Regions from separate parts of the Homo sapiens genome. Here region 1 is linked to region 2. Evidence: fine-mapped expression QTL. Tissue or cell type: regulatory T cells. Region 2 holds a variant in brackets; the other region holds the start of a gene. All regions are shown on one strand. Distances are from middle to middle.

Region 1 (2,764 bases), 52 kb before region 2:
AGCTACTCACCACTTTCTAATTGCTTCTAATCTCAGTAAAAGCCAAGTCCTTTATCACGGCCTGCAAGGCCTGGGTGATCTGTGATTACTCCTCGCCACACCCATTCCTGCCGCCGTCCTCCTGACCTCACTCTGCTTCATTAGAGGGTCTCCCACCCTCGCGGCCCCAGCAAGCATCATCTGGAAAGCTTGTTAAAGCACACGCTGCTGGGCCCCACCCCCAGAGTTTCTGGTTCAGTAGGGCTAAAGTGGGACTGGAAAATTCGCATCTCTAACAAGTTCGCAGGTGCTACTGCTTCCAGCGGGCATACTTGGAGAACCACCAGCTGCACTGTTCTCCTTCCCGTTCCTCAACAAGGCAGGCAGGATCTTGCTTAGCAGTCTCCACGCTGCTCTTCCCTCTGCCCTAGGCATTCTTTGCATTACTCAAAGCCCCTGTTATTCCATCTCTTTAACTCATGCCTTTTGAGAGGCCTTCTCTGACCACTCTTTCTAAAATCTCTTTCCCTCTCCTCATCCTCATTTATGTTTCTTCATGGTAAGCATCACTTACTGTTTCCGTCACCCCGTCTAGATGGACAGCTCCACAAGCAGAAAGACTTGGTTTTGCTGTCACAGCCGCAGCACTAAAACCTTGCTTAGCAGGTGCTCACTTCACTTGTCCAAGGAATGGCTAGCATACTGAGGAGGGAGAGCCTGCTTCCTGCCTGGGACACTGGACAGGCAAATCACTTCTTCTTGCCTCAGTGCCACCCTTTGTAAGGACACTGGTTGGTTATGCCTACCCTTCCCATCTCCCTGGGTACAGGCACAAATGAAAAGAATAACGTGTACACGCCCGCGAAGCAGAGCAGCAAGTGGATACCGAGCATTATTACGCCGTGCGTTCGGCCGCCCTTTTTCTGCACGGAGAACCCCCTCCGCTCCCATTTTCCAGCGCCCCCGTCCCGGCGATCCAGAGACCCGCTGTGGGCGGCCGCCGCCCGCGTCCCGGCCTGCGGGCCAGCGTCTGGGCACGCCCGCCCCGCACCCGGCTGGCGCCCGCCCGCCCGCCTCCAGAAGCAGAAGCGGCAGCGGCAGCGGCAGCAGCAGCAGCAGGAGGAAGGGGAGGCGCCGAGGGAGGGGTACTCGGCCGCCGCGGGAGGCCGCATCGCAGTCCCGTCACAGCGTCGGCGCCGGCCGGGGCCGAACCCGGAAGTGGCCGAGCCCGCGCGCCCGCCGGTCCCGTCGCCGCCGCCCCGCACTCGGGCGAGCGCGGGAGCCGCGCAGTAGACGGAGCGCGCCCGGCCGAGCGGGCCATGGCCGCGGGGGCCGCCGCCGCAGGTGGTGGCGCGCGGTGAGGAGAGCGCGGCGCCCCCTCCGGGGCGGATGGAACGCGGCTCGGCGGGCGGGCAGTGCCGGCGTCCGCGGCTGGAATGGTGCTGGCTGTGTTGGTCGGTGCCTGCGTTCTGAAGCCCGAGAGGAGCCACAATGGAGACGCCGCCGCTGCCTCCCGCGTGAGTGAGCGGGCGGGCGGGCTGCGCCGCTGCGGATAAGCGCGCCGCTGCGGCGCGTGTCGCCGGCCGCGGGCGCAGCTCTGGGGACAGCCGCCGGGGCCGGCGGGAGGTGGGAGATGCGGGGCGTGACGAGGCGCTGTGCCCGCAGTCCTGAGCGGACGCGGACGGAAACTCAGCCTGGCCAGGCGGTGACTTAAAACGCTGCCCAGGATTTCTGGGGAAGGGTCTTCCCCATCTCGGGCGGATAGAAGATTCGGGGTGGGGCTGTGCATGGGTGACCCTGCAGGTCCTGTGTGTACCTCCCTGAAATGCATGGGCACCTGGTGCCGAGTTTGCCTACCCCTTTATAAGAGATCAGGCTAGGATGCACTGAGTCCGTTGAAAAAAGGAAACTGGAAAGTACCAGTCACCCGCTGTCTAAATGAATTGATCTTAGGTTGCTTGATTCCCCGAATTTCTAACAAAATTAATATCTGAGGAGCTTTTGCATCACTCTAAATGAGCGGCGGCCGTTCAGGGCATGTGACCTCTTTTACCTGGCACTGCAGAACGTTTTATCCAGAAATCAGCATCTTCTGTTTCGTTCGTACCTCGGGCAAATTAGTAGCGTATCGACCTGCCAGGCACAGGTGTCTTTTTTCTTTGGTACCCAAGTACATTCAAGATCACTGGCAACAGAATTACTTTCTAGAAATAATAGCTGAAACATTATGTAGAAGACATTATTGCATTATTCAGAACAAGGGTTTTTTTTTTAAATTTTAGTTTTTAGTTTTAAAAACATCTTGGTAAAAGTGAACTGTAAATACCCAGGAGTTTCGAAAATTTCAATTTTGGTTCCCTCTTCTCTTAGGAAGGAACAAGAGTCCTTTGAATCTGACTTTTCAAATCGCAGACAAACCTCATCCTGAAGAATGGTTTACCTTTTCATGAGAGCTTATTCATGGAGGCTTGTCGTTCTCCGGTCAAATTTGGCAAGCTTCACTCCATGCCGATTGTACCGCACCAGTCTCTTGTGGTTATTTGGCAGAATTCCAGCCAAAATAAGGATACTTGGCTTGGGTTGAATAATTTTTTGATGTTCAGCCCTTTTAGGAGAGCTAATGGGATTCTGGAACGACAGTTTCTAAAAGTGCGTTTCAGAATTTTTAGCTTGAGTGGAACAGGTCGTGGAAATCTAGGGGGTAGATAAGACTCTTGAATTGGCCTTCCTGGGCTGACAGAAGCAGGGGCTTAGTCACCTCTCGATAGCTGTGGCTTTGAGGGCT
Region 2 (2,764 bases):
GCCAAGGGATTATGATAGCTCCAGATTAAAGCACATTCTTCATTTTCAGTGATATGTAAAACCACAGGATCAGAATTACATTAGATATTGAAAGACTAGAATATTAAATCTGATCTCCTAAATCAGGGTTTTCCAAATTCTGATCACTTGTAATCATTTGTGGGCCAGCTTCAGGATTTTGCTATATTCTACAAGTGCTGATGCTATTAAATTTTTAATGTTTTTCTCTACAGTGAGTCAATTTTTGCTTAAATAAGTTTACTTGAGAAGGAATGTTTATATTATTGTATTATTGAAATAAATGGAAAATAACTTAAAAAAATGTATTTCTAACTATGAACCTATATTCTTTTTTTTTTTTCTTTGAGATGGAGTCTCACTGTGTCACCCAGGCTGGAGTACAGTGGTCCGATCTTGGCTCACTGCAACCTCCGCCTCCTGGGTTCAAGCAATTCTCCTTCCTCAGCCTCTCAAGTAGCTGGGATTACAGGTGTGCACCACCATGCCCAGCTAATTTTTGTATTTTTAGTAGAAACGAGGTTTTGCTATGTTGGCCAGGCTGGTCTTGAACTCCTACTCCTGACCTCAAATGCTCTGCCCACCTTAGCCTCCCAAAGTGCTGGGATTACAGGTGTGAGCCACCAAGCCTGCCCTGAACCTATATTCTTAACTATTAATGCAAGAAGTTTATCTGTATGTCATCTAAAATCATTATGCACATTTTGGTTAGTACCGCTCTCATAGCAGGCTTGGCCTGTCCCATACCAGGTGTGTGACCTTTAGCAAGTTACCCAACTTCTCCTACCCTCTGTATTCGCTTGTGTATGATGGAGATAATGAGATATTATTGTCTGGCAAGTGCTTAGCACAGTGCCTGATGTAGTAATTACTCAGTAAATGGAAGTAACTGCAATAATGCATTGTTGAAGTGGTTGTTGTCTTTATTATTCTTCATGAAAAGGACAGTGTTGGAGATTTAGAAATTATACAAATACTTCCATTCTGCACCTAAATTTGGGGTTGAAGGTATTAGAACAGTAGACCAAAGAGCTGACCAATTTGATTATATCCCTAGCTTTCCATGACTCGCTGTATGACTTGGTCAAGCCGTTTAACCCCTCGAGGGTGTGGTTTCTTCATCACACAAATTAGAAGGTTTGATTTGATTTGATCTCAAAACTTTCAGCTTGCAGGGTGACAGCTGTTTGAGTGGTTTTGATCATGGGATGTGGTTCATCTGAAGTCAGAGCATTTTAAATTTTGTTTTAAGTGGCTGTTTGGCACCCAAAA[T/A]AAGCTAGGAGTTGATGTGGCCCCAGCTGTTTTCCTGTTTTCATTATCAGTGACTGATGGTCACCAGGCGTCATGTTAGCAAGCTGGGTCAATTAGTAATTGCTTTTGAAGCTGTATATAATTAATTACATAATTATGAGCTATTGAAGTTTAGTCCTAGTAAAACTACATCATAAAACCAAGGCAATTTCAAAAGATTTACTGACAAAAGAAAAATATGAACAAACTTTTTGTACATTTGACTTACATTTATTTTATGTTTAGCATATATTTGTCAAGCATGTAACCACGTTTCACTGTCATCAAAAAAAATTATATGTGAATATAATCTAGCCACATGGACCACTGTTGAAATAACTTTATATTTCTACCTAGATGACTTGTTATGCCCCTTCCAGATAGGAGAATCTACAATTTTATGAATTTCGGTCTCCTAATACGGTAGATCTGAACTTGGTAATGATTAAGTTGAAATCAATAAAGCAAAATGAAATTTTAAAAGCCTGCTACACACACATATATGTGTGTGTGTGGGGGGGGTGTATATGTTAGCATAATATACCAACGACTAATTTTTTTTTCACTCAGGAATATATTTTAGAAATTATCTCATTTATTAGTTTCCTCTTTCGTTTGAATGACTGCAATTGAATGGATGATTCCAATTATTTGATCAGTCTCCTTATGATGGACATTAAAGGCTTTTTTCTAACTTCTATTAGCCACAATAATGCTGTAATGAATATCTTGTGCATGTGAGATTTTGTGCATATGTTAGCATATCTATAGGTTAAATTGCTGGGTCAGAGGACATGTGCATTTGTAATTTTGAATTTGAAATAAACAAATTGTTCTTCATGGAGGTTGGACCAATATGTGCTCCCACCAACAATGTGTAAGTGAGCCTGTTTCCTGCCCAACCACTTTTTCCTCATCGTTCTGTGTGACCAAACAATTTAAGTATTATACTGTTTTCTCTAGGAAAATGCTAATTAGAGGAGTGATCATACTATTTGTGCAGATTTCACAGAGATTGAATTTTACACTGAAGACCACTTTCTAAACTATATGTAGAAATTTAATTTGCTGAATTAAATGGCTGTACTATTAAGCATCTTGGAACGCACTTTATGTTGCTTCAGAGCGCAATTACACTGGCATGGAAAAACCTGCAATTTGAAAATTATCAACAAATTAAAGCCTTCTGTGGATATTCATTCTCATAACATAATGAAACCTACTATACATATCATGCAAAAAGTTTGGCTGTAACGTTATTTATACTTTATTTTCTATTTTTATTTTTATTTTTTGAGACGGAGTCTCTCTCTGTCACCCAGGCTGGAGTGCGGTGGTGTGATCTCGGCTCATTGCAACCTCTGCCTCCAGGGTTCAAGTGATGCTCCTTCCTCAGCCTCCTGAGTAGCTGAGACTACAGGTGTGTGCCACTACACCCAGCTAATTTTTGTATTTT

Alleles and levels. Positions count from the first base shown, and alleles are read on the strand shown. Sizes are in standard deviations (SD) of each study's normalised expression.
As copies of T replace A in region 2, the expression in regulatory T cells of the gene that starts at base 1,155 in region 1 goes down (large effect, 1.1 SD a copy in Schmiedel 2018).

Evidence for each region. PIP is the estimated chance that this variant, and not a neighbour inherited with it, causes the effect.
Region 1: it holds the start of KLHL2, and the variant in region 2 is fine-mapped to the expression of KLHL2 in regulatory T cells (Schmiedel 2018, PIP 0.95).

The regions. Positions count from the first base shown.
Region 1 is chr4:165,206,407-165,209,170 of GRCh38, forward strand. KLHL2 (kelch like family member 2) reads left to right here and starts at 1,155. Exons shown (of 15, transcript NM_007246.4): 1 at 1,155-1,496. The coding sequence starts at 1,471. RefSeq lists an enhancer at 776-1,276 and a silencer at 807-1,456.
Region 2 is chr4:165,258,756-165,261,519 of GRCh38, forward strand. The region is part of intron 4 of KLHL2 (kelch like family member 2); the gene reads left to right. Among named protein-coding and RNA genes, the nearest start is that of GK3, 20 kb to the right of the region's middle. The variant T/A (reference allele first, on the strand shown) is at 1,291.